Linked DNA regions of Homo sapiens: all the other regions are linked to region 3. The links come from fine-mapping of genetic effects on gene expression. A gene starts in region 3. Each other region holds a variant in brackets. All regions are shown on one strand. Distances are from middle to middle.

Region 1 (10,213 bases), 27 kb before region 3:
GAAGAAATGATATGAACTCTTTGATCAATACATTCATTTGGAATTTATTTAGCTGATTTTATATGAGGAAGAACCCAACTTTTTCTAAGAAACAAATATGAAAAGTGTGTTTTGAGGCTAACAGTATATCTTTAATGTGTACATGTAAGAAGAAAGGCATCGGCAGGCACAGTGGCTCACGCCTGTAATCCCAGCACTTTGGGAGGCCGAGGCGGGCGGATCACGAGGTCAGGAGTTCGAGACCAGCCTGACCAACATGGTGAAACCCCGTCTCTACTAAAAATACAAAAATTAGCTGGGCGTGTTGGCAGGTGCCTCTAATGCTACTTGGGAGGCTGAGGCAGGAGAATCGATTGAACCTGGGAGGCGGAGGTTGCAGTGAGCCGAGATGGTGCCATTGCACTCCAGCTTGGGCAACAGTGTGAGCTCCGTCTCAAAAAAAAAAAAAAAAAAAAAAGGAAGAAAGGCATCAGGAAACCACTGCGGATGATGACTTTCAACTGCAGATATTTACAGACAAGTCAAGCAAAACAGACTTGGTAGCAGAGAGACCCAGATTTGGTGTGGGTCACTGTTTATGTGGAAAGACTGGGTTTTTTTGTGCGGCCCTTGGGAGCCTGCCGGTCTCCTAGGCATGGGGTGTGTTTCCTAGTAGAGTATATATTTGGATGCTGGGAGTTGGTACTTCTCCTCGTGGCAATATTAGGTGCCACACAGTGTTTTTCAACAGAGAGGATGTCAGAGGGAGGGCTGGTGAAAGTTCAGAAAGACACTTTATACTATGTGGGGTTGCTGGATATCAGAGTGAACTTTGAGTCTAGCCCTCAGTTTTTCATTAAAACACCTGCTGAAGGATTTCACAGTTCCTTCCCGCCGCCCACCTTCTTAACTCACATACTCATCTCTGTGGAGAAAACTAGGCGTTCACTCTCCTGTATGACTGGTGGAGGAAGTAAATGAAGATTGTCTTTACAGAGACCAATTTGGCATCAGGTATCCAAGGCATTACAACGGGAATACCCTTGGACCCAGCAATTCTGCTTTTAGGAATTCGTTTTTTTTTTTTTTCCTTTTTGTGACGGAGTTTTGCTCTTGTTGTCCAGGCTGGAGTGCAATGGCGCGATCTCGGCTCACTGCAACCTCTGCCTCCCGGGATCAAGCGATTCTTCTGCCTCAGCCTCCCCAGTAGCTGGGACTACAGGTGCATGCCACCACACCCGGCTAATTTTGTATTTTTAGTAGAGACGGGGTTTCTCCATGTTAGTCAGGCTGGTCTCGAACTCCCGACCTCAGGTGATCCACCCGCCTTGGCCTCCCAAAGTGCTGGAATTACAGGCATGAGCCACCGTGCCCGGCCCAGGAATTCATTTTAAGGAAATAGAGATCTGTACAAGATATATTAATGAATCTGGCTGTTCATTTGGCCTTGTTCATAATAGTGGAAAACTGCAAATAACTTAAATATCCAAAAAGTGGCAAGTGGCCAAACCATGGGTCATTCACTCACTCTGCAGTTTATTGAATGCCTACTATGTGCCAGGCACCTGGTAGGTGTGAAAAGTGTGTAGTGACAACCAAGGCAGATATGGTCTCAGCCCACATGGAGCTCACAATTTTGTTGTTGTAGAAACAAATTTCATACAATATGAAGTAGAAAAAAGTGGAGTACTAAGTGTATTTACAGTGTGATTCCATTGTTGTTAAATAAATAGAAAAACTCTTTTCTAAGTTGTCCACAGTGGTCATTATGATTTTTGTAATTTCTTAAAAAAGTGACTTTTAGGGACAGGTACAGTGGCTCATGCCTGTAATCTCAGCATTTTGGGAGGCCAAGACAGGCGGGTCACTTGAGGTCAGGAGTTTGAGACCAGCCTGGCCAACATGGTGAAACCCCGTCTCTACCAAAAACACAAAAATTAGCCGAGCGTGGTGGCGCATGCCTGTAATCCCAGCTACTCGGGAGGCTGAGGCAGGAGAATCGCTTGAACCCAGGAGGTGGAGGTTGCAGTGAGCCGAGATTGGGCCTTCGCACTCCAGCATGGGGAACAGAGTGAGACTCTGTCTCAAAAAAAAAAGAAAAAAAAAAAAAAAAAAGACTTTTAGGAAGGAGAGAAAAAGAAGGAATCAGACCTGGGTTCTAGACCCAACTCTTCCTTAAAATTTTTTTTTTTTTTTTTTTTTTTTGAGGCAGGGTCTCGCTCTGTTACCCAGGCTAGAGTGCGGTGGTATAATCACAGCTCACTGCAAGCTCAAGTGATCCTCCCACCTCAGCCTTCCAAGTAGCTAGGACTACAGGTGCATGTCCTCCACCCCCGCCACCCCCCACCATGCCTGGCTAATTTTTAAAGTTTTCTGTAGTGATAGCGTCTCATTATGTTGCCCAGGCTGGTCTCAAACTCCTGGGCTCAAGGGATTCCACCACCTGGGCCTCCCAAAGTGCTGGGGTTATAGGTGTGAGCCACCATGCTCAGCCATCTTCCTTAAACTTGTGGTGAGACTTTGAATGAGTCAGAGGACCACGCTGAATTTCCTCCACACAGTGTGGGAGAGACCTCTGTGGCCTCCAGCCCAGGTTTTGAGATCTCAAACTCTGGTCTCTTCTGAGGACCCTGGGGGATTTTACGGCAGTGTGAAAAGGCCTGGAGTTTTCCCCAGGAGGCAGGACAGCAGCCAGGCTGCCTTGCTGAAGCCCTAATCCCTGGGCACTTTTGGTCTCCAGGGCCCAGGTCCTCCAGGAATCTGGTGATGTATTCAACTGGGGAAATGAAAAAGAGTTCCTGTATTAGCCATATGATAATTAAATTAAGGAAGTGCCTCTTGCCCAGCAAATAAAAACAAGGCATGATTGGTGTACCTGGCCTAACTTGCTTACCCAAATCTCACTGCACCCCAGGCAAACAAAATGACAGCAGCTCCATTGATTGAGCCTTACACAAGTGCCCAACACTGTACTTTGGGGACATTTTCCTAGTTAAGGGTCATGACACTGCTTGAAATAGGTAGTCACCATCCCCATTTTACAGATGGGGAACTCAAGTTCAGAAGTCGGGTATACCCGAGGATACTAGAGTAGCAGAGGCTGGAATTCAAACCCTAGTCTGCTTGCAAGCAACTTTTTTTTATTTTATTTTATTTTTGAGATTGGGTCTTGTTCTGCTTGTTCTGTCGCCTAGGTAGTCAGGAGTGCAGTGGCTCAATCATGGCCCACTTCAGCCTCAACCTCCTGGGCTCAAGCGATCTCCCATTTCAGCCTTCTGAGTAGCTGGGATCACAGGCATGTGCTACCATGTCCAGCTAATTTTTGTATTTTTTTTGTAGAGATGGGGTCTTGCTATGTTGCCCAGGCTGGTCTTGAACTCCTGGGCTCAACGGATACTGCTGCCTCGGCCTCCCAAAGTGCCGGGACTATAGGCGTGAGCCACTGCACCTGGCCTTGAAGCAACATTTTAAATCTCTGCTCTGAACTGCCTCCCAGACTAAGAAGCAAGTTCCACTGCAGCCATAAAAACAGATGTCTAAAGCTAGGGAATGTGTGATGGGTGTTGTAATCCATCAAGTGACAGAACATCGGGAAGCTGCGGAATATAGAGACTTAGGAAGGGCAAAATCTTATTTCTGATGAAACCTGATACAGAGAAAGCTACTTTAGCTGTTTTTCTGTGGGGTTGTAAATGATAAAATTGGGTTTTGACAGAGAGAGATACAGCCGCCTTCATGCTCACTATAATAACCGTTTCTCCTACTTGTGATTAGAAATCAAAGGCCAACTATTACACCTTATAAACCTATACCTCTTGAAAGAGTGATAACTTACACTAAGGCCTGACCTATGTTGTTTCTTTTTTTTTTTATGTGAAATATTTTACTTGCTGGGCTCCATTTTGCTTATTTAGCAGTGATTAACAGATAGTAAAACATATGAGATACTAGGGATACAGAGGAAAATATAAGTTAAAATAAAGAATTGGTTTCTTCCCCACCGCCCCCGCCCATCAAAAGAATGTTCCAGTATGACAGCTATTTCCTGTGTTTCAATTTCAATTCCTCTATATTTCAGTTTCTTCAGATTCATGTTATATAGTATGATCAGATTAATCTTCTAAAATACCACTTTCATAATGCCATCTCCACCTCTCTCTCCCATCTTCTCTGGAACATTTAATGGCTCCCCATTGTCTAGGATAAAATACAAACTTATGGGTTTAGATTTCGGATTTCTTCATAGTCTGCTTCCAAGTATGCTTTTTTTTTTTTTTTTTTTTTTGACAGAGTTTCATTCTTGTTGCCCAGGCTGGAATGCAATGGCATGATCTTGGCTCACTGCAACCTCCACCTCCTGGGTTCAAGCAATTCTCCTGCCTCAGCCTCCTGAGTAGCTGGGATTACAGGCATGCACCACCATGCCTAGCTAATTTTGTATTTTTAGTAGAGACAGAGTTGCTCCATGTTGGTCAGGCTGGTCTTGAACTCCC[G/A]ACCTCAGGTGACCCGCCCACCTTGGCCTCCCAAAGTGCTGGGATTACAGGCATGAGCCACTGCGCCCGGCCCCAACTTTACCTTTGCAACCATCTTTCCTGACAGTCCCATGAGGGACTCCTACTCAGATGAATTGGTCCATTTCTTGGTTCTCTGAATCTGCTCTTAGGTTTCCTCACTTTGAGCTTTTGTTTTACTGTGCCTGCCAGTAAAGAACACGGTAGAATATTCTCCCCTCCCCTTTCCTTTCTCTGAAGTTCTGCCCTTCCTCCCAGGCACTATTTGTATTTTTCCTTTTTTGAAAAACCAAAACATTCCTTGAATATCTCAGCCTGTGGTGATGAGCTCAGTTTCCCTTATCACATATTGTCTTTAACTGAAGTCCCATGTCCTGGAGGGCTACAACCAGCTCAGTGCCCTGCCTGTCCCAGGGGCTCCATAAACACCAATGAAAACAATATGCACAGTACAGCTGGCTAAAAAGGAACACTTTTTGTGCCAGCCATAAAATATGGCTATACCAAGGGAGGACCTCTTTCCCTTCAGAAAACAAATAGCCAGTTTTCCCTGTTGCACGTTTAAAATGCATATTCTGTGGTATTAGCTAATTATTTGTCATGCAGTTACCACTCATGACTAGTCCTGTTTTATGAATGAAATGGAAGCAGAGAGATGAAAATACTGGCATGACCTCACCAGTATTTTACTTGCTGGGCTCCATTTTGCTTATTTGCAATTTGCTGAGCCGTTGGCAGAAACAGCACTTGAACCCAAGTTTCCTTCTGCTATTGTTATCCTCTCTCCTTTAGAGCAGGTGTTGGCAAACCTTTTCTGTAAAGGGCCAGAGAATAAATAGTTCAGGCTTGCAGGCTATATGGTCTCTGTTGCAACTGTAGTATTCTGGCACTGTAGTGTGAAAGCACCTAAGACCATTCACCATTTTGGTTTGAACACTGAGCAGGCCCTCCAGTTGGGTGTAGGCTAATGTGTAAATTACATCCATGGCTGGGAAAGACTGGCTGGTTGGAGTAAATACTGGCTGGTTGGAGTGAAGACTGGCTGGTTGGGGTAAAACTGGGAAGTTGTAGATCTTCAAGCAGTAGACAGCCAGTCATCCCGTGGGCCATGGACATGGGCTGTGGTCACAAGGGAGACATGTTGGGGACACACTGCATACAACTCAGGGATCCGTTGTTTCCCAGAGCACATCCATCAGTCTCTCACTTGGCAAAGATTTCTAAGGCTTACTAGCTGCTGGGCAGACTGTGCCTGTTTAGCTTGCTCAGAAGATAGGAGTCATTTTGGCCAGTGGCAGCGCTGGGTGCAGTTATAGGAGACCTCAGCATGTGACATTCACTGCCATGCACTGTCTTCAGCCGAGAGAGCAGACCTGTTTCCCAAGATTGAACCTGTTAACTAAGTTCAGACACAGGTGTAGCAAATCAGAAAGCCTGTGCATTAATTTACAGTGACAACTATTACTGCCTGAAAGTGGCTTGATGAGCGTGGGAAAAGGGAAGGGAAGGTTGGATGATTTGAATGTTGAGTGTCATTGGAAAGGTCAGCCAGTTTCACCCGGGCGCGGTGGCTCACGGCTGTAATCCCAGCACTTTGGGAGGCTGAGGTGGATGGATCATCTGAGGTCAGGAGTTCGAGACCAGCCTGACCAACATGGAGAAACTCCATCTCTACTAAAAATACAAAATTAGCCAAGCGTGGTGGCGCATGCCTGTAATCCCAGCTACTTGGGAGGCTGAGGCAGGAAAATCGCTTGAACCTGGGAGGCGGAGGTTGCGGTGAGCCGAGATCATGCCATTGCACTCCAGCCCGGGCAACAAGAGGAAACTCCATCTCAAAAAAAAAAAAAAAAAAAAAAGTCAGCCGGTTTCAGCCCCCTGTGTAACTCAGCATTGGTGCTGAGATCCCAACCTCAAGGCCAGGGTTAATGCTGCCAGTGTGCTGGGTGGGGCTTGGAAGAGCTGTCACCTGTGTGGAATCCATAGGGACCCTCCAGGATCCCAACTTCCTGCCTACTTCCACCCCCCTCCCTCCTTTCAAGAGGACGCTTTATTTCATAGATATGTTAATGCATTCCACTTGGCAGGTTTGGACCTGAGCTCTTTCTGTCTCTTTCTTGGGGACTTTGCATATCCATACCCCAATCTGGTAGCCCTTGGTCCAACCCTGCGGAAGGATGATGCCCTTTCTGTTCCAGCTAGTAGGGTGTCTGGGGCAGAGCCTAGACCCTAAAAGTGATTAAGAGCGCCTGTAATGATCAGCGAGGCTATTTTAACAGTATAAGATAAAGGCAATGTGTTCCGTTGGTTCCCTGTGTTCCTCTTGCCCCGGCTTATTACTGCCCCAAGAAGGTAAATCACAAATCACCTTTCAGTTTCATCCTTTTTAACGTAAGGTGAATGGTATGAAAAATTTAGCAGGTTCAGGTCTCTGCAGGGAGGATGGGTTACATAGGGTTCAGGTAATTGGGAGGAGGGTTTTCCAGGAGAGACTGGTGTTAGTGAATGGAGTCGTTGGGGAGTTCTTCAGTCACAAAGCATTATGCAGATGCAGTTGTTGTTGTTATTCTGAATCGAGGCAGGGAGGAGGGAAAGGGCCCAGCAGGTTGGGACAGTGCAAAGGCCTCTGGGGGAGTTGGCCTGAAGGCTGAGAGATAAGACTTTGGGGAAGGGCAGGGTTGGGGAGGAAGGGAAGCCGGAGCCTCGGCCACTTTCTCATACTTAATTCAGGGGTTCCTTTTGTGCATTCAGACCTGTGCCCATCCTCTCTCCTAAAGAGGTCAGCATCCAGCCCCTCTTCATGGCTTGGACACGTGAACCCACCATTGCCATCATGTCTGCCTTGCTACAGCCTAGTTAGCATCACCTGAAACCATAAATAACATCAAAGAAAAGAGCCTATTACTAACCCACTGCAGAGTCCCACTGTTGCCCATTGACAGGTTGACAGGGGTTGAACGCACTGCTTTGCAGTGTACTTTTCATGGCATCTGTGTGAAGAGACCACCAAACAGGCTTTGTGTGAGCAACAAGGCTGTTTATTTCACCTGGGTGCAGGTGGGCTGAGTCCGAAAAGAGTCAGCGAAGGGAGATAAGGGTGGGGCCGTTTTATAGGATTTGGGTAGGTAAAGGAAAATTACAGTCAAAGGGCGTTTGTTCTCTGGCGGGCAGGAGTCGGGGTCGCAAGGTGCTCAGTGGGGGTGCTTTTTGAGCCAGGAAAAGGACTTTCACAAGGTAATGTCATCACTTAAGGCAAGAACCGGCCATTTACACTTCTTCTGTGGTGGAATGTCATCAGTTAAGGTGGGGCAGGGCATATTCACTTCTTTTGTGATTCTTCAGTTACTTCAGGCCATCTGGGCCTATACGTGCAAGTCACAGGGGATGCGATGGCTTGGCTTGGGCTCAGAGGCCTGACAGTACTGAAATAGGGGTCTCTCTGCTCCATGCGTTTGAGATATTCTGGTATCCCCAAGGCCTATAAAGGTTACCAGGAGGCTGCTGCTGCAGCCAGAGGCCAGGAAAGCACCCCTAGATCAGAGAAGGGGTGGTCTTTTCCTTTTCTTGCCTTAGTAGGGGTAGGCAGGCCAAGAAGCAGCACTGGTGGGAGTAGTGCCAAGTCTGCCTCTTAGCTGGATAACCATGGCAGGTCATTTTAACCTGCTTGAGGCCCAGGTACCCCCTAGGTAATATGGGGATAATAGCACCGTTACAGGAAAGGGGTCCCAATCCAGACTCCAAGAGTGGGTTCTTGGATCTGGCACAAGAAATAATTCAAGGCGAGTCCATAGAGTAAAGTGAAAGCAAGTTTATTAAGAAAGTAAAGGAGGCTGGACGCGGTGGGTCACGCCTGTAATCCCAGCACTTTGGGAGGCCGAGGCGGGTGGATCACGACGTCAGGAGATTGAGACCATCCTGGCTAACACGGTGAAACCCCGTCTCTACTAAAATACAAAAAATTAGCCGGGCGTGGTGGCGGGCGCCTGTAATCCCAGCTACTTTGGAGGCTGAGGCAGGAGAATGGCGTGAACCTGGGAGGCAGAGCTTGCAATGAGCAGAGATCACACCACTGCACTCTAGCCTGGGCAACAGAGCAAGACTCCGTCTCAAAAAAAAAAAAAAAAGGAATAAAAGAATGGCTACTCCATGGGCAGAGCAGCCCTGAGTGCTGCTCATTGCTCATTTTTATGGTTATTTCTTGATGAGATGCTAAACAAGATGTGGATTATTCATTTCTCCCCTTTTTAGACCATATAGGGTAACTTCCTGATGTTGCCATGGCATTTGTAAATTGTCATGGTGCTGGTGGGAGTGTAGCAGTGAGGACGACCAGAGGTCACTCTCGTCACCATCTTGGTTTTGGCAGGTTTTGGCCGGCTTCTTTAATGCAAACTGTTTTATCAGCAGAGTTTTTATGACCTGCATCTTGTGCTGACCTCTCATTTCATCCTGAGACTTAGAATGCCTTAACTATCTGGGAATGCCGCTCAGTATGTCTCAGCCTCATTTTACCCAGCTCCTATTCATGATGGAGTTGCTCTGGATTACGTGCCTCTGAGAGTACCTACCTCAAAGAGCTATTGGCAGAGCTAGAGGAGCTAGTCTGTGTAAAGCTATGAGCCCAGCATATAGAAGGCACACACAGGGTTGGATGCAGGCTTTGTGTGGCCTGAAAGCCTATTCAATTTGGCAGGGGTGGGTACCTCTTTAAGAAAAGAATGTAAGGCCAGGCGTGGTGGCTCACGCTTGTAATCCCAGCACTTTGGGAGGCCGAGGTGGGCAGACCACCTGAGGTTGGGAGTTCGAAACCAGCCGACCAACATGGAGAAACTCTGTCCTACTAAAAATACGAAATTAGCTGGGCGTGGTGGTGCATGCCTGTAATCCCAGCTACTCAAGCTGAGGCAGGAGAATCCTTAGAACCTGGGAGGCGGAGGTTGCAGTGGGCCGAGATTGCGCCATTGCACTCTAGCCTGGGCAACAAGAGTGAAACATCGTCTCAAAAAAAAAAAGAAAGAAAAGAATGTAAAAGTACCAGATATAAGAGTGAGTATAGATTTCAAATGATGAAAGAAAACACAAGGAAGTATATGTTTAAGAAACTGACAACCTTACATCACAAAATGCAGAAAAATAAAATATGATTACTTGTTATCTGTTTGATATGTTACATTATTTTTCTTCCTACATATTTTAGGCTATATATTCTGATCATTTCTTCATATGACAATGATTTTGGAATGCCATTATCTCTAGAGAGAATAGAAGATAATTTTCAATTTTCTTATTCCTCCAGCCTGAATGGTTGGGATTTGTTCTTCACTATTGATAGCTAAGAAAAAAATTTGTAAGCTTCACAACTAGTTGTTGGTAACACCATGTAAACGTTTAGGACTACTCTCAAATTTGGGAAAACCTTAAGTTTCTTTCATATATAAGGCGTCAGATTTTATGGCATTTAAATGTTCTTGTACAATGACTCATCTTATTTACTGAAGGTGCTCATTCAGCACATTGCTGGGACCCATCCCAGGGCCCAAGAAGGGGCCAGTGGGAGTGAGGAGACTTGAGCTTTCAGCTTCAGTGTTTCATGGTCAGCCCTCTTGTAAGTCAGTTCTCAATAAACATTAACTAAATTATATTTGTATGATTTTTATTGACACTTTAATTTTCTAATTTTGGAATTACTAAAGAATGTGTTCTTATGCATGCTAAATATAATC
Region 2 (10,213 bases), 73 kb after region 3:
GGTGGAGGGAGATGACAGATGAGATTCTAGTCTGCCTCTTCCATGCCTTAAGTCCATGAGAACAAGTCACTTTCTCTTTCCTGGGGACTGTCATCCCTTCATCTGAAAGCTGAGAGTTTGCTTCAGGATCCTCTAGTGTGTGAAATTGCACTGAAGCCACTGAACACTGGGTAATTGTACAATATTTCTGTGTCTTAACAGTGATGTGGCATTTGGTTCAATTCTAAGCCATCAGGCCACTTGTTGACATGACCTAGAGAAGATGGAAGTGAAACACCGAGTCATTAAACAGGGACCCCAAAATGCCGAATTGACGTGATCTGGCTGGGTCCACTGTGATGCGGGGAATCACCCGTCAGCCCCTTGCTGGATCGCTGTGAGGGGTACCTGGGAAGTGCTTGGCTTTCATGGGGCTGGTACTTAGCATCCTGAAGAAGATGGTGATTATACTAGATGGGCGGTTATTGCTAGGACTTGCAGGTGTGCTTGGCAAATGTCACTCTGAACTGAGCTGCAGGTGGCTGGAAATGCTGCGGGAAAAGCGAGACATTTGAGAGCACTGCCCAGACCTTGCTCACATCCAAATACCATGCTAAATATTGAGATGTGTAGACCCGTGCCTCTGTTTTCCTTTTTTGCTTTTTTTTGAGACGGAGTCTTGCTCTCTCTCCAGGCTGGAGTGCAGCGGTGCAATCTTGGCTCACTGCAACCTCCGCCTCCTGGGTTCAAGGGATTCTTCTGCCTCAGCCGCCTGAGAGTAGCTGGGACTACAGGCAGGCGCCACCACACCCAGCTAATTTTTGTATTTTTCGTAGAGATGGGGTTTTACCTTGTTGGCCAGGCTGGTCTCAATCTCTTGAACTCATGATCCGCCCGCCTCGGCCTCCCAAAGTGCTGGGATTACAGGCGTGAGCCACCGCGCCCGGCCCATGCCTCTGTTTTCTAAAGTGCCCTTTTGAATGTATGTTAGGATGTTCTTCCACACCTGCTTTGTTGATACCAAATTTGTGAATTGTTTTTAATCGAAGTGCAGAGCTCAGCGTGGAGTACTTCAAACCAAGTGACTTAAACAACAGAAACTTACTGTCTCAAGGTTCTGGAGGCTGGAAGTCCGAGACCAATGTGTCGGCAGGGTTGGTTCCTTCTGTGGGCTGTGAGGGAGGGTCTGTTCCACCCCTCTCTCCTAGCTTCTGGTGGTTTACTGGCATTTTGCTGGAATGCTTTTGGCCTTCCTTGGCCTGTCGAAACATCACTCTGATTTCTGCCTTCACCTTCACTTGGCATTCGTTTTCTCCATGTGGTGTCTATGTCCAAATTTTCCCTTCTTGTAAGGACACACTGGTCGTATTGGCTTAGAGGCCCATCTTTCTCCCGTAATAATTCATCCTATTTAACTAATTACATTTTCAATGGCCCTGTTCCCAAATAAGGTCATGTTCAGATGTACTGGGGGCTAGATCTTCAATGTAGGAATTTTGGGGAGGCATAAATCACCCCATAGCAACCCTTTTCTTAAGGGAGACATTTTGCTGATGAATATATGGAGAAGCAGAAAGTAAGGAAATATTTAAAGAACAAAATGGTGGGGTGGGGGGCAGGGGTGTCAAAGGGATTCGCCTGAAGTTGCTCCTAGTAGCCAAAGCTGGGACGGTGATGAGCAGCAAAATAAATAACATAGTGTTGGATTATAACTGGAAATATAAAATAAATACCTATGAGTCCAGACTGATAGAAATAAATGATTGAATAAATAAACAAACAAATAAATGAGAGAAGAGACACAATTCCCATTCAGAGGGTTCCAAATGCTTGATGTAGCTCTTTCTCCACTGAAAGAGGTGGGACGGAACTCTCCACTCCTGGAATGGCTGCACTTAATGACCTACTTCTAAAGATGAGAGCATGGAAAAGGTTGGAAAAGGGAGTTTGGAGTGGACAAACCTGGTGAACAGTATGCCACAGGTGATGAAAGTACCATCCTCAGTGATGTGATGTTGATACCGGGTACCTCTCGTAGGACATCATAAATTTGGCACTTCAGCTTTGTGGTCTTTCTCCCCAAACTCATAACCCCTGTCTAGTCATGGGAAAAACATCAAACAATGATTTTGTCCTTCAGCAGGGACATTCTACAAAAATAACTTGATCCTCACTCCTCAAAGCCCCAAGGTCATCAGAAACAGGGAAAGTCTTAGAATCTATTACAGACCAGAGGAGACTAAGAAGACATGATGAGCAAATGTGTCCTATGATGTCCTGGATGGGATCCTGGAACAGAAAAAGGACATTAGGGGAAAATGTGCAAAATATGAATTAACTGTGCAGTTTAGTTAATAGTAATAGTAGTATGCTGCATGTTTATAGCAGCACAATTTGCTGCTGCAAAGATATGGAACCAACCTAAATGCCCATCAACCTATGAGTAGATAAGGAAAATGTGGTATATATACACCATGGAATACTACTCAGCCATAAAAAGGAACAAAATAATGTCTTTTGCAGCAATTTAAATGCAGCTGGAGGCCATTATTCTTTTCTTTTATTTTTTGAGACAGGGTCTCACTCTGTCGCCAGGCTGGAGTGCAGTGCCGCGATCTCGGCTCACTGCGATCTCTGCCGCTCAGGTTCAAGTGATTCTCCTGCTTCAGCCTCCCGAGTAGCTGGGATTACAGGCACCTACCATGAAGCCCTGCTAATTTTTGTGGTTTTTAGTAGAGACGGGGTTTCACCATCTTGGCCAGGCTGGTCTTGAACTCCTGACCTTGTGATCCACCACCTCGGTCTCCCTAAGTGGGATTACAGGCGTGAGCCACTGTGCCCGGCCTGGAGGCCGTTATTCTAAGTGAAGTAACTCAGGAATGGAAAACCAATGGAAAACGTATGTTCTCACTTATAAGTGGGTGCTAAACTGTGAGGAAGGAAAGGCATGAGAATGATATAATGGACTTTGGGGACTCGGAGGGGAGTAGGGGGAAGGTTGGGAGGGGGATTAAGGATAAAAGACTATCTATGGGGTGACAAGTGCACTAAAATCTCCGAAATCACCACTAAAGAATTTATCCATGTAACCCAAAACCATCTGTACCCCAAAAACTATTGAAATAAAAAAATAGTAGTATACCAGTGTTGTGACAAGTGCCTTATTAGTAATATATGGTGTTAACATCAGGGAAAACTAAGTGAGGGGTATGCAGGAGCTTTCTGTGCTATCTTTGTAACTTCTCTTTCCTTTTTTTTTTTTTTAAAGCAGTCTCCAAAATGCAGACTCATTGATCAATTTTAGATATCCCGATTGTTTTTGGTAGAATGAAAAGTAAAATCACTGCAGCACTGAGAGTTGCCTGACCTACTTTAGTGAAGAGCTGATTGTGAAGGGCTCTTGCTTTTGCCTCATTCTCTGGAAGATCTGCTGAGCCACACGAGGGGTCTCTTTGTAGTTTGGATACTACAGTTCTTGGAACGTTAGTTTTGTGAAATGGCACTCCACTGTGCTTTGTAGAGTACCCGTGGCTGAGCTCGGGCTACTCATGCACACCGAGCCACGCCAGCTTGCTTGGGGAATCTACACCTTTGCCAAGGAGACTCTGGCGTGGGGCCTTCGGAATCTAGATCTGGAAAGTGGAAGGAGGGGTGGTGTGTTTGGGTTGCTTGCCCGTACCTCTTCGGAAAAGTCCACTGAGCTGTTCTAATCTTTATGTTGCCTGTGCCCCTCCTTCCTAGATACGTCATTTCTCATTAAAGAATATGCGTATTTTAATGTTTCCAGTAGACATTGCCAAATTGCCTTCTGATTTTACACTCGGTTCTAGTCCACATTCCCACCAACTTTTTAGGAAATTTCTATTTTTCTAACCTTTCTCA[A/G]TGTCTGACAGTTAAATGAAAAGACAGTTCCTCAATGGGTGACCTTGACTTTGTGATTTTGGTACTTATAGTGGGGGTATTTAAACTTCGTAACACTACATTAACACCCTATAAACAGCAGCTCTCCCCATAATAATGTTTATGACAACAGATTGTTTTTAGAGAGTGACATATATATGGGTCTTATGTAATACCTTCTCTGCTATAGGCACCAATCCAAAGTCAGTTTCCAGAAAAACATTTTAATCCTCTCTCACCATGGTTGGAGAACAGGTTTTGCATTTAATCAAACAGTATGGTTTATGGAGAGTTTCCTGGATGATTGGTTTTCAGAGCCAGCGTTGTTTTGTGTTTCCTTGGTAATTCCAAAGAAATCCCAGCATCCTACGTACCTTTGGCCTCCATGATGGATTGACCATGATTGGGTGTTAGATGGTCAGAAACTGAGTGAGATGGTTTTTTTTTTTTTTTCTTTAATGAGCTTTCCCTTTTTTTGCTTTAAAATTTTCAATGTAAAAATAATGACATCATAGTCTATATTTCATGTAAAGTATTGTGGCTTAACATGTACAAAGTTAGAAAAATCCACAAGACTCATTTGCTGATCTAGGTCTAAAGATTTATTTTTTGGATGACTATAAAATTTGCAGAGTTAGAACATTTCAAGAAAGTTTCTCGGCTCGATGCGGTGGCTCACGCCTGTAATCCCAGCACTTTGGGAGGCCAAGGTGGGTGGATCACTTGAGGTCAGGAGTTCAAGACCAGCCTGGCCAACGTGGTGAAACCCCATCTCTACCAAAAAATACAAAAATTAGCTGGGTGTGGTGGCAGGCACCTGCAATCAGCTACTCGGGAGGCTAAGGCAGGAGAATTGCTTGAACCTGGGAGGTGGAGGTTGCAGTGAGCCGAGATTGCACCATTGCACTCCACCCTGGGCAACAGAGTGAGACTGTCTCAAAACAAACAAACCAACCAAAATAAAGTTTCTTTTACTCTCATCTTTTTTTTTTTTTTGGAATAAATTCCAGACATTTAAGCTTCTCCTTTTAGCTGTTTCTGTTTGCTTCCTCAGAGGAATTTAACGAGCCGCAAAAAAGAAAAAAAAAAAAAACCACACACATTAATGGCCTCTCCAAAGATTTTGGCCTTTCTGATATTGAGGTTCTTAATGAAAATGGCAGATTTTAGTGCTGACTCAGCAAGTTCTATTATCCTGCCTGCTGCCCTATTGATGTCCTTTTTTTTTTTTAATTTAAATGTCTTCATAGAGTAATACTGCTAAGGGTATAGAAATTGTACAGAGTGGTCACTGTATATTCAAATTAACAAAGTTATCAGTCATTGTTCACCAGGTAAATAATCTTTGGCTGTCATAGTGAGGCTGGGAATAGTAGATAGGGGAATTGCATTGGGAGGAGGTGGGGAAGGTACTGAGGTGTTTAGGGAACTCATCCTTTTAGACAATTAGAAGATTAGAAAATCCTTAAAATGTTAATCTTGTTAACATAACGGTGTTAATTCCTCCACTCAGAATGCTGAATTTGCACACAGCAAGGAATAGCTTATTCATTGCTTGGATAGGATCCAATAATTTTTTAATTTATAAGACATCTTTCATTCTAGTTATTCAGAGTGTTGTGCGTTTAATAGTTGGCAGAAGCACTGCAAAGCCACAATGAAATCAGTTTTAACTTACATTGAAGGACTTTAATTGTTAGATTGTGGTGTCATTGCAAGTGTTAATTCAGTCAAGCATAAAGAAAGATTGCAAGGATTTCGATTAGTTGCTTCATTATTACAAATATATTTACTTGAAAGCAACATATTTGATGGAAACCCGAAATAGTTTTTTAAATGCCCCTCATATTCAATACACTTATTTGGATAAGTTTAATTTAAAAGCGTGAGGCATTATGCATTTTGAAAGATTATGTTTAAACAGCACTTTTTGCTGGGAGTAATTTTTGAAAGAATATTAAATTTAAAAAAATCAATATGAAGCTTCATGGTGCTAAACAGGTAGGAGAGTGTGGTAAATTAATGCAGTAAAGTAGATGTGGGATTGAATACCGGGGCTTTCAAAGTGGTAGCACTTCCAAATATACATTATATTTTGTTAAAAAATTGGAGGGGATGAAGAATAGGAAAGGCTTAAATTGTAAGGGCACACTCTTTAAAAAACACAGTGCTCATTGACAGTGGGAGCTTTAAAAATCCATTAGTTGGCTATAATTTTATTTTCATATCAAATCATGTTGTCTTTTGACTTCCATTATATTTCCTGAGTTGGTCTCATAGAATAATTTTGTTCTCAGCATTTTGCCTTCGGTATGCTGTTCATTATACGTTTAATTCTGAGTCAATCCTGTGTTGTTTTATTTAAATGGAAAACAGTCCCTGTTATCTTTGAGCACTTTGTATCAGGGGTAGCTCATGAATATTATGCCCAGTCATCCAATTTCATTCTGTTTTCACACTCACTTTGAAAGTTGAATGTTTAAGTAGCTGGGCTGATTATATCTATTTTACTCAGGTACTGAGTCAAACTCGTGACTGAGAGAACCACTCCGAGTTACCTTTTTATCTTCTGACCTCCTGGGGTGCCCTCAGTCCCTGGTTTGTATTTTAATAGCCAAAGCGTTAGAAGTTCTTTAAGTCTACTACAGATAAATTTCCATTGACCTAACTCCTGAGATGATGGATACCAAAGAAACTCTGTGTTTCCAATACCTCATGAGAAGAAAGTTGCAGTGTTGATGGGCCTAGTAGGTGCCTGGAGTCTTTGCAGATTTGCTTGGTGAGTATTTACTTCTCGGGATAGCCAGCCAAGGATTCCTGAGCACAGCGACGCCTTAGGCATCGTTAGAGGGGGAAGTGTCTGCAAAGTGGGGCTCACCTGCATTCTGCATATTTGTCAAACCCCTCGCCTTCCCAGAGGAGGAGAAATTGATCCTCATGTTAGAAATAGGAAAACTGTCAAAAGTGCATGAAATCAACCGTGTACAACGTGAAACAACAGGCGGCACTTTGTCTTGTAGAAGCTTAAAAATAGCACATTTTTCATCAATAATAGAAAATAAAAACCTGTTAGCACATCTAAGATGGTCTCATAGAATATTTTTGATCTCAGCATTTTGTCTTCTCCAAGTTCTGGTCACACTAAATACTTGCAAATTTTCTAGATTAACAAAGGAGGGAGATTAAGAAGTAGAGGTGCAGTATAATTAGATGGGAAGTGGAACCCATCATTCATAAAAGATTTGAAGAACATAGAATGGGGGATTGATAAGGAAAGCGATCAGGTTGGCAGGGGCATCCATGTGTTACTGTTGAAGAACAGGGAATGTGTAACCCGGGAAGAGCACCTTCAGAAGGTTAGCATGCCAGCCATCCTCACCATCAGAGAGGACAGATTTGGACTTGATGGATCGAAGTTATAGAAAGAAGGATTTGGGGTCAAGACAGAACAGCATCTGACAGTGTGCCAGGCACATAACAGAAGCTGGGTAAATGCTAGAGTTGTTGGGTGGGTGGACAGATGAAGGGGATGAAGGTAGAATGAGCTACCCCCAGGGATGCCAGTCGAGGCTAGACAACCAGCTGCCAGGGTCGTCCCAAGATTTAACTCTTACTGGAGAACTGCAGGGTTATCGCTTCCAGCTCTTGAGATGTTGTTTCTGAGTTTCTTGGGCTGCCATGACAGTCGAGGCATATCCCTCTGCAACATGGTGTTTGTAGTTTATAAGGTGGAAATGAAACTTGAGGGAATAGATGCATAGCTTTGTTAGCCAGCAATGAGAGGTCAGGCTCTTCTCTTGAAATTAAGTGCAGATTTCAAGACCGTGATGGGACTAATTCAGTTACTCTTCGTTCTGTGTCATCCAGCTTTTTGATTCATGCCCTACAATTACCTCCCTTGTTTTAGTGACACTTCTTTGCATTTCCTTCCGTGTGAATAAAATGATCACGGCAGTGTTTTGCCAAGCAGAAGATCATTTCCAAAAGCTGTCCATCAAATCATCCCAACCTCCCCCCTATTGTTTATCCACTGAATTGATGAGAATAACACCCACCCTTTGCATAAATCTCCATGGAAGAGCCAAACTGGTGTCCTTGTTTTGTGGAAGCACATGTTCTTGGCCAGAGTCTCTGATCACATTCATAACCTTTTGTTTTTCTTACATAAGGTTCGTGTTGCATTATTTGTCAAAGCATCTCTGAGACTCTGCCATGGATGTGAGAGGTACGGAAAGAGCGTGGGAAGCATCAGAGATTCCACATTAATTCCTAACTTTTGCTGATTTTTAAATCATCTGGAGAAAACCTCCATAAACCATTGAGACACATTAAAAAAAATCCTTATCTTCTCAAATTGAGTTGCTTAATCACCATAGTCCAAGTTGAGACATGTTTCCTGTGTGTTTACTTTTAAATGGAAAGTTTTGGTCAAAGTCTGTTTATGAGCTGCTTATTCCAACATATGTCTCTCTAACACACATCAGTTTCCCCCTTCCCTCAGAACACACGCCCCAACCAGTTTGGGCAGAAGAAAAATGAATGGGAAAAACACATTCAGAGGGGAAAAAACATTACCAAATTTTAGTAGCTTTTTTTACCTCCTTCCCCTGCACCCCCCTTCCTTCTTCTCTTTCCTCTCTCTTTCTCTTTGCAGCTGTGGGTCTTCTGAATGAAAGCTTTTTGTTTGTTTGTTTTAACTGTAAGGAGAGCAGAGTTTCTTATCTTAGGATTCTTCTGAACTGGAAATTGCCCCCCACCCCCAAACCCTCCTATTCTTTTCTACTGATGAGAAACACATCAAGAGATTTCCCTGCATTTCAAGCTTCCCAGCAGAGTCCCGCGTGGGAGGTGGGGGTTCTGGCCTGGCTTTGGTGCATTCACCAGCCCCCAGGCCTCCAGCCCAGGCTTAGCTTCACCTGCATTTGCAGGGGAGTGGCCCCGAATTGGTGCTGCAGATGGGCACAGCGGCTCTGTCACCCTCAGGAGGAGGAGGCCAGTCCGAGGAAACAGTGAGGAAGCAGAGAAATGAAAAAGATCCCACAGTCTGAAGCTCTCAAAGCGTGACTCTGGCTTCCCCGCCTGCCCGATCCTGCCCGCAGTAGAGCAGGAGTCAGAAACTCTGTCCTGGGCCTGTCTCCCATGAGCTTTAGTGCCCCAGAGAGGTCCTTCTGCCTCCCCAGCATTGGAAGGAGCAGGATCCGAGAGAACCACACGCTTGCCCTGGTGCAGACGGGGACTGGAGGGTCTCCATGCTTCCTCCCAGCTCCTGCAGGTTGGCCAATGTCGCAGCAGGCTCAGAGCAGATCTTAGTTAGGTCTAGAAAGAGGCTCAGGTTAGAGCCTCCCTGGGCCACTCACTAGCTGTGTGACCTTGGACATGTTACCTGAAGCCTCTGGTCCCTGAGCCTCTGTTTTGTTACTCATTGTGGCATAAGAATACTTGTCTTAGGCTGGGCGTGGTGGCTCACACCTGTAATCTCAGCACTTTGGGAGGCCGAGGCGGGCAGATCACCTGAGGTCAGGGGTTTGAGACCAGCCTGGCCAACGTGGCAAAACCTCGTCTCTCCTAAAAAGAACAAAAATTAGCTGGGTATGGTGGCAGGCACCTGTAATCCCAGCAACTCACCCAGGAGGCAGAGGTTGCAGTGAGCCGAGATCGCACCGTTGCACTCCAGCCTGGGTAACAAGAGTGAAACTCTGTCTCAAAAACAAACCAACAAAAAGAATACTTGTCTTAAACGAGTGCTTTAGGGATTAAATTAAGTAAAATGATGTACCAAATGCCTAGCCCTTGTGCCTGGCCCAGGGAAAGTCATTGAATTTGATTTCTCCTTCCTCACCATTGCCACTGTCTTTTAATAATTGTGCAGTCTTGTTTCTGCAAATGCTGCATACCAAATATTTTTTTTCTTTGAGACAGAGTTTTGCCCTTTCACCCAGGCTGGAGTGAAGTGGTATGATCTTGGCTCACTGCAGCCTCCTCCATGCCTCCCTGCCCACCCCCAGGTTCAAGTGATTCTTCTCCCTCAGCCTCCGAGTAGCTGGGATTACAGGCACCCATCACCACACCTGACTAATTTCTGTATTTTTAGTAGAGACGAGGTTTCACCATGTTGGCCAGGCTGGTCTTGCACTCCTGACCTCAGATGATCTACCCACTTCGGCCTCCCAAAGTGCTGGGATTACAGGCGTGAGCCACCGCGCCCAGCCGGCTGCATACCAGTTTGGCCCTTATATATATGGTTTTGTATTGTGAGGAATCTTTTTATACTTTATGTTCTGTGCTTTCCCCTAGATTTAAGATCTGTGAAAACCAGGACTGTTTGCAAGTTCTC
Region 3 (10,213 bases):
GCCTGTAGTCCCAGCACTTTGGGAGGCTGAGGCAGGCGGATCACCTGAGGTCAGGAGTTCAAGACCAGCCTGACCAACATGGAGAAACCCCGTCTCTATAAAAATACAAAATTAGCCAGGTGTGGTGGTGCATGCCTATAATCCCAGCTACTCGGGAGGCTGGGGCAGGAGAATCACTTGAACCTGGGAGGTGGAGGTTGCAGTGAGCCGAGATTGTGCCATTGCACTCCAGCCTGGGCAACAAGAGCAAAACTCTTGTCTCAAAAAAAAAAAAAAAAAAAAGAAAGAAAGAAAATATGGACAAGTATGAAAGAAGCACACAAAAAAGAAGTATCCCATAACTCTAACATTCAGAAGGAACCACTATTTTAGCCTTTTTTCCCCAATTTTTTTTTTTCTTAAACAGTCTTCATTCTGTTTTGTATGAATTACTGCAATGATTTCTGAGTTGTTCTGCTGGTTTTTGATCTTCCAGTTTCTCTCTTCCTCTCCCGAAATTCATCTTGGATCCACCATCCCCATTTATCTTTTTTTTTTTTTTTAATTCGTATCTCTGATAATACAACTTCTGGGCTCAAAAATATTCAGTGAGCCACCTTTGCCCTCTGACCTTAACACATATAAATTGCTCACCCTGCTATTCAAGGAGTTTGGTGATATGATGCTTGCACTCTTACCCACTAATCTGTGTGCTCTTTAGGGACAAAGACCGTCTATCTCTGGCAGCTAACACAATGCCATGCACTTGGTAGGCACTCAGCAAATATTTGTTCAGTGAATGAGTTCCTCTTCTACTACAATCAAGTCAGATTTGGTAATTCTGTGCCATCGATTTCTCTTGGAACAGCAGTTTGTAAGCAAAATCATCCCCTTGTGCTTTCTCAAAATACACATATCCAGGCACCATCCTAGAAGACTCTAGTTGGTTAGGTGTGGCTTCTGGATGGTTCTGATGGGCATCCCCAGGTGAGAAGCTCAGGTCAAGAACACCCCTTCCCCATTTCCACAGGTTAAACAGCAACCCACCCTTATTAGATATCCCACTTCCAAAGTCATCTCCCCTCCCTTCCCCAGATGTTTCACCATGTCCCTTGTCTCAGCTGTTAGCAGTAGGGAGTGGTGGGGGGCCATGCGCGTAGGGGAGTCATGTGACTCAGGCTAGGCCAATCGCACTATTTCCCTGAGAAGTTAAACTATGTCATGGAAGGCTTGAGGCAGTTCAAAGGTGGTGGGTGCTAAAAGTCAGAAGGCCTCAGGGCTTGCTGCTGGCAGCCCTGTGTGGTTATCATTGAGCAGAGGAAGCCAACCTGCAGGGTAGAGAGTGGAGTCACCTATAGAGGGAAGCACGAAAGGAATATGGTTCTGTGCAGGCCAGCGGTGTGTGCCTGCCCAGCCTCCCCGTATTTCCTCTCATATATCCTTTGTACTGGAGTCTCTTTGCAGGATCCCTCCCCAGAAGACTGTCTTTCCAGGCCTGCCTCGGACTCTTCCTATTTTGGGCAGTCTCTCAGGTCTTCCCGACTGCACCTGCTCACCTACTCAGTTGTACTGCCTCAAGGGGGGCAAGGTATATCGGGTTTTATACTTAACTATTCCATAAATAGCCATGCTGCTCTAATAACCAATACAGTGTGTGTGTAGGGGGATTAAAGTTCTTGACCAGAGAAACATTTAGCAAAAGAATGCACAAAACATCAAGGGAGGGGCGCTCTTCTCCTTGGAGGAGGAACTGAGGTCCCACGCTGATGGGGGCAGATAAGCCTGGAATTGAGGACTTCCAGCTCCCAGATACTTATGTACTCTCCAGCCCATGCTCAGATGGGGCTGCAGAATGGTCCCATCAAGTCCTCTATCAGGAAATAAGTGTTTCTCAAAGTGATTTCTAGGGCACATATACAATTCGGCTGTTAAATGTGTTTGTAAAACAGTGTAGACAAGACATTAGACAATGCAGCTTGCTTATTTGTGACTTCTCAGGACCTAAGACGCAAGGGTCCTTTCTGAAAGTTCATGGGGAATTGTGAATGGGGTTGTTCCCAAACAAATTTGGCCCCTGCACCCTAGGTCAGGAAGCAAGTCCCAGAGCTGAGGTTCTATGGAATTAGAAGGTGGAAAAGGCCACATTAAGCCCTCCTTTGGCTTTCAGCATTTTTTCCCCCATTTCAGATAGACCGACAGGCAGACATGTGTCCCCTGCTGTCCACATCAGGCAGGGCTGGTCCACCACTTCCTCTTCAGGGTGACACCTTCTCACATCTCTTGCTGCAACTGTAATGGGAGAGAGAAATTAAGAAATATGTTTGAGAATGCAAGAAGCAAAAACACACATGGAATGACATATTCCATGTACAATCACCTTTGGCTCACATCCCCTCTTTTTGAACTCTGAGAAAGCAGGAGGGGACTGGGGCCGGTGAAAATAAGGTGCCACCTCTACTTAATATAAAGAGATTTCTGGCTATTGTGTGAGTGTAGCTGGGGGACTTGGGGGTGGGGTTGGGGGCTGGGGATGGAAGAGGAAGATGTAAGGGGGCGACTTCGTCCTCTCTAGGCCAGCAAGGGCTTGGACAAAGGTCTCTGGCCTTGGTTCCTCTGGCGGAGAATAAGCACCCTCAACTGACGCGCTGATGGAGGGGCAGGACCTGCATTAGCCGGAGCTACAGGAAAGCAGGGTACACATTGTCTCATCCTGGCTTTGTTACCACTTCTAACCCTGAGAATCTCTGGCGTGAGACTTCAAAGATCATCTGACTTGTCTCTGCCACCTTGTGCCTTTTGCTTAGTGACTTTGGGTAGGTCGCATCAAGTGCTCAGTAATCAAAGGGGTGGGGCTGGATGACCTCAGGCTACCCCTGGGCTTCCACCTCCTAATTGTCTCCAGATGGGGAGATGCCACACAACTTGGAAGTAGTAAGGTCTCCGGTGAGTCTGAAAGGCACATCTTTGCTGAAGACTTGTCACCTGCCCTCTTGAACCTTTGTTAGGGGGAATGACTCTCAGATTGGGGGGGGGGGGTCTATTTTTTGAGACAGAAAAAATTTTCAGAAGCCTAACTGGTGTTTCCCTTAGTCCCTCCTTTTGGCTAGGTTTAAAAGTACTGCATGCTAGAAAGCTTTCTCCAGGTCTACTCGCTGTTTTTTTCTGTAGTTTTCAGACCGCTCACGATGTCCTGTCCACTGGCTCAGGAGGGGGTGGCAGGAAGGGTGCCCTGGGCTTCTCCTCTGTAGAGGAACCAACCAATTTGGCTACCTGGGAGTAATGTGCAATCACATTTTTATTTTTGTCACCACCAGGGTGTCCTGTTGGACTCTCTCCTCTCATCCTCTCCCAAGGCGGCTGGTTGGTGTGGCTTTAGCAGTGGGTGCTATTATTTGGAGGTGCCTAGAGACTTAGAGTGGTGGCTGCACCATTTCGCTGGGTGGCTTGCGAATTGTCAGTCTGGTTCCTGAGAGCTCAAACTGAGATGGAAATGAGACCTGTTTTCTCTCTAGGCCGGCCGGGGCGTTCCGCACAACCCACTTGAGAGGCCCCACCGGCGTGGCCTTTAGGACGGTGCCTCTTGTCTTGTAATGGCCACCGGCCCTCCCTCGGGAGACACGCGGCCACCTGGGTGGGACGCTGCGGTGCTTACCTCCGGGACACGAGGTGGTCGCTGGGAGAGGGCTCGGAAGGCCCTGGGGGTCCTATCAGGACGCAGCACTGGGGAGACGTGGAATCTCCTCTTCTCACCCCCACAAGCCTCGCCCGCATCGTAATTCTTTTTATTTTTACTTTCGAGCCATGTAAGGCATGCAGATGGGGTAGGAGCGTTCCCGCGACACGTTGCCAGCAGCGCAGCGCCGGCCCGCTCGTGTGGCCGGAGCCCGGGGAGGGGACAGGGCACGCGCCGCCTGACCCACCTGCCCCACCGCCCACGGTCGCGGCCGCCCTGGGTCGCGGGACCCGCGCCGGTCACCCCCGCCCCGCGGGGCCCAAGAGGCGAGGCCGCGCGGCCCAGCCCCGGCCTCCGCCCTGGCTGAGTGCTGGGGCGCGCGAGGGGCGCGGGCAGGGTCCGCCCCGGCGGGTCAGTGCCCCGCGCCCCAGGCCGCTGGCGGCCAGGCCCACGTTTTCCCTTTCTCCGGCTCCCTCCGCCCTCCGCTCTGTCCCTCCCTCCGCCCTCCTCCCTCCCCGCGCTTCCCCTCCTCCTGCCTGGTCATGTGTCGCCTTTTTTTGTTTGCAGTGGAAACAATTTCTCGCCGCTCGGCGCGCCCCGGCCCGACGCGCCGCGGCGGAGGCGAGCGGGAGGCGGGACGGGGCGGGGAGAGCGGCGGGGCCGGCGGGAGGACGCGCGGCGCGCCCGGCGGACGCCGCAGGTCCCATGCCGCGCCGCGACCCCCGCGCCCCTGCCGCCCGCGCCCGCGGCCGCCCCCCGCCGCCCGCCGCCCCGGGCTCGCCGCGCCGCGCCCGCGCGTCCTTAGCGGGGCCACCGAGCGATGCCCGCCGGGCGCCCGCGAAAGTTTGTCGGCTCCTGCTGAAGGGCAGCGGCGCCCCCGCACCCCCGTGCCCCGCTCCGGCCAGGTGAGTTTGCACCCCGCTCCTGCCGGCTCCCGCGTGGGCTCGGGGGGCACCCGGGGCGGGAGGCGCGTCCGAGACGGTCCTGGAGACTACCTCGCCGCTCTGGGAAGACGAGGGACCCCGCAGGTCCTGGGGGGAGGGTCGGGTGTGGACCCCGGGAGCCCCCGAGCCGGGAAGTTGCCGGGTCCGAAGAGTTTCCTGCCCCGACGTGCGTGCTGCTTCCCGGTGCCTCGGTTTCCGAAAAGACGCCCGCAAGGAACAGAGTTGGTATTGTCTGCGGAGGACGGGGTCCCCGCCGTTCCGGGCCGGGGAGGGGGTTCCGATCAAGTGGAGACCCCAAGATGAGAAACAGGCTCCTAACAAAGATCACCCCCCGGCCAAACTGTGCAGACTTGGCACAGGCAACGAACGTCTCCGGAGACCCCCGAGGCCCGACCCCCCTCATCCCGGCCCTGTTTGAAACCCTCCTTGGGCCCTGGATAAGTTGGGGGACGGCGGGCTTTTATTGATTTGTTTTCGAGGCTCGCCGCGGTGCGGCCAATAAAAGGTTTATGACATCTGACCGGCAGTGAAGGTATGCGAGCTCCCAATTGCCCTGTATATGGGGATAAGAGCAGTTTCCCCCGTTGCCCGGCAACGCCGCTGATTGACGCGGGGTGCAGCCAATCGCCACTCCCGCAGGTCCCCTTGAAATGTTTTTGACAAGTACAGTAGACGAGAGTGAAGCGCGTGCGTGCGCGCGCGCGCGTGCTGGGTGGGCGGGGGTGACCCGGCCCCCCAAACTCGCTACTGCTCGGCTCTGGGAAGATTTCTTAACTTTTTAAAGTTCGCATCGAACATCTGTTCAGAGCTGGGCCAGTAATGTCTTTGTCAGTTATTTGGAGACCTTCTGTTTACTAGGCGAGAAACTAAGCTTTCTTGCCGCATTTTCTCCGTTAAAAAATAAAGAGGGTAACAAAACACAGCAAGTCATAAAAAAAACAAAAGAGGGTGTGTGTGTGTGTGTGTGTGTGTGTGTGTGTGTGTAGAGAAAAGTTGTAAGGAGGTCACCAGTGAATAACTATTTGCGTATCTGGTGGAGCAGCCTTGTTGGCAGCAGATTAAAAATGTTTGCTTAACTGCAACTCACATGATCCAGATTCTTTTTTTTTCCCTCTGAAACAGGAGGAAAAAAAGATTTGGCGAAATCTGTAGTTAGAGTATAATAATGGAAAACTCCTCAGCTGTGGTTTCTGGGAACTGTTTTTTTTTTTTTTTTTTTTTTTTTTTGGTTATTGTTGTTTTGTTTTGTTTTTACATGGAACTGTAGTGATCAGCAGCTCTTCACCCTGTTGGTATAAAATGCGGGATTTATAGGGATGCAGTGAGTGGTTGGAGAGTACGGGGTCCCAGCACAAAACGCACACATGATCCAAGGGTACTGAACTCCCATAACCCTCTCTTCGTGACAATGCCACTTTTTCTCCTAAAACCATATTGCTGGCAGTGTTTGTTTAAAACAAAAGGAAACATGGAGAATAGCGTGTTAGTTCCTCTGGGAAGCTACTGACAAATAAGCAAATTAAAAAGAAAGAGAGCAGCATGTTGTCATAGCAACAGTGCAATTAAATTACTTTACTGTCAGCCATGATATAATTTTCCTGTTTGGAAGCTCAGGAGACATAAAACTTTCATTTAGAGCTAAAGTTGACTTCAGTGGCTGGGTAGTTCTGTTTTATACTCTACTGTGGGCATATGCTGGTCATCAGAAAATTTTCTGATGGGATCTGAGGAAACTTTAAGAAAGACAAGTGGTGCTATAATTCGTTCATAAAGAAGTTAAAAGCAGGATCAGACCAGACTCTGTTGTATCCCCAAGCCAAAAGATGCTAGCTTGTTTTTTGTCTGAAATGTGTCAGGGTAACCTCCTTATTTGACAGAAAGAAATATTCCCTGTGAGTGAACCCAAGACGTCTGGAGCATCCTGCCTGGTCTGTACTGCAATGCCTCATGAAGTTTTCTCTCCTTAAGAGTTGGGCATCTTGGCCAGGCGCGGTGGCTCACGCCTGTAATCCCAGCACTTTGGGAGGCCGAGGCGGGTGGATCACGAGATCAAGAGATTGAGACCATCCTGGCCAACATGGTGAAACCCCGTCTTACTAAAAATACAAAAATTAACCAGTCATGGTGGCACACGCCTGTAGTCCCAGCTACTTGGGAGGCTGAGGCAGGAGAATCTCTTGAACCTGGGAGGCAGGGGTTGCAGTGAGCGGATTTTGCACCACTGCACTCCAGCCTGGGCAACAGAGTGAGACTCTGTCTCAAAAAAAAAAAAAAAAAAAACCGGTTGGGCCTCTCACCACAGCTCCCCCTTAGGCCTTGCGTCTAGCAGGTTCTACCTTTTGGAAGAGGGAAGGTACTATAATTCACAGGCACCCTTGGCTGGTAGGTTAGTGCCCAGGATTATGCCTTCTAGAATTCCCTAATAGAGCTTCCACAGCTGAAGTGGCAGTTGTTTTAGATGTGGTGTTAATGAACATTTAAGAGACATAGAAGGGTCATGTCTTTGCCTTTTTAATTTTATTTATTTATTTTTTTGAGACAGGGTCTCCCTCTGTTGCCCAGGCTGGAGTGCAGTGAGCCTCAACCTCCTGGGCTCAAGTGATCCTCCCACCTCAGCCTCCCAAGTAGCTGGGACTACAGGCACACACCACCACACCTAGCGAATTTTTGTATTTTTTTGGTGGAGATGGCGTTTTACCATGTTGGCCAGGCTGGTCTTGAACTTCTGAGCTCAAGGGATCCTCCTGCCTCAGACTCCCAAAGTGATGGGATTATAAGCATGAGCTACCATGCCTGGCCTATGTCTTTGCTTTTAAATATGTTCATTCATCCCTCCTCCTTCTTCTCCTCCTCCTCCTCCTCCTCCATCCCTCCTCCTCCTCCCCCTTCTCCTCCCCCTCCCGCTTCTTCCTCCTTCCTCCCCTTGCCCTGCCCTGCCCTGCCCTTCCCTGCCCTTCCCTTCTCTTGCCCTCCCTTCCCCTCCTCTCCTCTCCCCTCCCTTCCCTTCCTTTTCCCTTCTCTTTCCCTTCCTTTCTTCTTTCCCTTCCCTTCTTTTTTTCCTTCTTCTTTCCCTTCTTCCTTCCCTTCCCTTCTCCCTTCCCTTCCCCCTTCTCTTCCGTTCCCTTCCCCCTTCTCTTCCGTTCCCTTCCCCCTTCTCTTCCATTCCCTTCCCTTCTTCCTTACCTTCTTCAAAACTTTTGAGACAGCATCTCACTCTGTTGCTCAGGCTGGAGTGCAGTGGTACAGTCATGGCTCACTGCAGCCTCAGCTTCTTGGGTTCAAGCAGTCCTCCCACTCAGCCTCCCAAGTAGCTGGGACTACAGGCACATGCCACCATGCCCGGCTAATTTTTGTATTTTTCATAGAGATGGGGTTTCGCCATGTTGCCCAGGCTGGTCTCAAACCCCTGGGCTCAAGTGATCCTCCTGCCTCAGCCTCCCAAAGTGGTGAGATTATAGGCGTGAGCCACCATGCCCAGCCTGTTCATTTGTTTTCTAGGTAGATGCTTGATTTTCTTACTGTTCGTTTGTGGGGGGAATTAAAACCTAACAGTTTTAAACCAAGCATATTGTTTTAGCGCTACGGAGAGTGGGAGACCTTTTTGGTTATCTTTACTGTTCTTTCTGTGTTACGTTGGGTGCTGGAGGGTTGAACATGCTTTGTGTCTGTAGGGGTCATTCTGTTTGTAAACGTACCACCTCCTCGTTTTCTTTTCTCATCAGATGTTATTTTACTCCGTGTTCTAGGTCATTGATAAAAATGGGGATGGTGGTGGGTCGGGGTGGAGGGATAGAATTCTATGGCATGTTTTGTTGAATTGAATTGAATTTGCTGTCTTGAAACTGGCAGTTGCTCTCCTGACTTTTTTCACCAGCTCTAATTTCAGTTAATGGCTTATCTTACATTCCCATGTATTCTGTGTGGTACCTGAAGTTACTTGCTTTTCTTCTGTTCTGGAAGAAAAAATAATTCACAGTAAAATTTAACGTACTTTAAAACTGGTCTCCTGGTCTCAAGCAATCGTCCCGCCTCAGCCTCCCAAAGTGCTGGGATTACAGGCGTGAGCCACCGTGCCTGGCCGGTGTTACTGGTCTTATTTTATTTAAGGGGCATCAGGTCACCTTGCTATATGAATGGCGGGCTGATTTTTCTCATCAGCCTATCTCTCTGTGGTGGAATTGTGGGATTGTGTTGCTTAGTGTGGGAGTCACAAGGTGGTGTTCCTGTGTAGCAGGGGTTCCATAGAGGCGGCAGAGGGAGGCAACAGGATCAGAGGGGTACAGTCTGCCTTTCTGTTTTGGGCCTCGCCAGCTCATCATTTCTTTGTGATGTCTTTACTAGGAGCCTTCACGTAAATGGGTCCAGTCATGCCTCCCAGTAAGAAGCCAGAAAGCTCAGGAATTAGTGTCTCCAGTGGACTGAGTCAGTGTTACGGGGGCAGCGGTTTCTCCAAGGCCCTTCAGGAAGACGATGACCTCGACTTTTCTCTGCCTGACATCCGATTAGAAGAGGGGGCCATGGAAGATGAAGAGCTGACCAACCTGAACTGGCTGCACGAGAGCAAGAACTTGCTGAAGAGCTTTGGGGAGTCGGTCCTCAGGAGTGTCAGCCCCGTCCAGGACCTGGACGATGACACCCCCCCATCCCCTGCCCACTCTGACATGCCCTACGATGCCAGGCAGAACCCCAACTGCAAACCCCCCTACTCCTTCAGCTGCCTCATATTTATGGCCATCGAGGACTCTCCAACCAAGCGCCTGCCAGTGAAGGATATCTACAACTGGATCTTGGAACATTTTCCGTATTTTGCAAATGCACCTACTGGGTGGAAAAACTCAGTGAGACACAATTTATCATTGAATAAGTGTTTTAAGAAAGTGGACAAAGAGAGGAGTCAGGTAAGCCTCTGTGTCTGGAACCCAAGGTTTTCTTTTTTTTTTTTTAATTTAAAATTTTTCTCTATTAAAAATGAATTTCTATTCACCACATTGAAGTAGCAGTTGTAAGTGGGTTTTAGTCTATTTAATTCATTTAGATAATTTTAAAGAATTTCCTTTCCCTAAGCCTATTAGTTATGTACTGTTTATTAGCATTTGTACTATTTGAGAGTTTCCCACTGATAGGGTTTCCATAAAGATAAAACAGTGGTTTACAGAATTGATTAGTTCTCAGTTAACATCCCTCAGTGTGGATGGGTCACTTTGGTTTTAGGGTCTTAACAAAGGTCAGTATTCCAAGGACAGCCATTAACCGTGAAGTATGTGTGTGTATATACACTGCCACCATGGGCTAGAGAAAAATGGTGTTTCTTTTTTTCCCTGAATATGAACTAGGAGAAGGGAAATTTCTCCAGTGTTCTGGCATAAGTGGACAGTGATGAACATTGAGAAGAGACTTGAGTATACTTACGCTCGCAGACTAAACAGACATGAGTTGCCCAGGTGACTGTCATGAAATCTGGTGTCTGTATAAGTGACAACTTTGAAATTCCCGGCTCAGAGTGAGGGTCCCATTAGAGACTGACTTTTAAAAAGTTTAATATTGACTTTAAAGCAGAGGTCCCCAATGTTTTTGGCACTAGGGACCCATTTTGTGGAGAGCCAAGGGGGATGGTTTT

Direction of the effects. Alleles are on the strand shown, and positions count from the first base shown. SD is a standard deviation of normalised expression in the study named. Not every link is listed here.
For the expression in whole blood of the gene that starts at base 4,195 in region 3, A is the high allele of the variant in region 2 and G is the other (small effect, 0.17 SD a copy in GTEx).

Evidence for each region. PIP is the estimated chance that this variant, and not a neighbour inherited with it, causes the effect.
Region 1: its variant is the best candidate, but not a certain one, in a credible set for the expression of FOXN3 in whole blood (INTERVAL, PIP 0.89).
Region 2: its variant is the best candidate, but not a certain one, in a credible set for the expression of FOXN3 in whole blood (GTEx, PIP 0.71).

What each region holds. Positions count from the first base shown.
Region 1 is chr14:89,438,059-89,448,271 of GRCh38, reverse strand. It overlaps a transcript of FOXN3 not described here. Among named protein-coding and RNA genes, the nearest start is that of FOXN3-AS1, 26 kb to the right of the region's middle. RefSeq lists enhancers at 6,310-6,893, 6,933-7,227, 7,480-8,063 and a silencer at 6,933-7,227. The variant G/A (reference allele first, on the strand shown) is at 4,473.
Region 2 is chr14:89,338,387-89,348,599 of GRCh38, reverse strand. All of the region lies in intron 3 of FOXN3 (forkhead box N3), which reads left to right. Among named protein-coding and RNA genes, the nearest start is that of FOXN3-AS3, 6.8 kb to the left of the region's middle. RefSeq lists enhancers at 7,258-7,757, 7,758-8,259, 8,161-8,455, 8,978-9,247. The variant A/G (reference allele first, on the strand shown) is at 3,862.
Region 3 is chr14:89,411,215-89,421,427 of GRCh38, reverse strand. FOXN3 (forkhead box N3) reads left to right here and starts at 4,195. Exons shown (of 6, transcript NM_005197.4): 1 at 4,195-4,557; 2 at 8,938-9,494. The coding sequence starts at 8,952. FOXN3-AS1 (FOXN3 antisense RNA 1) reads right to left here and starts at 4,074. Exons shown (of 2, transcript NR_036500.1): 1 at 3,632-4,074; 2 at 1,635-2,268. RefSeq lists silencers at 3,814-4,103, 4,144-4,353 and enhancers at 4,049-4,343, 3,968-4,500, 4,501-5,034, 5,049-5,343.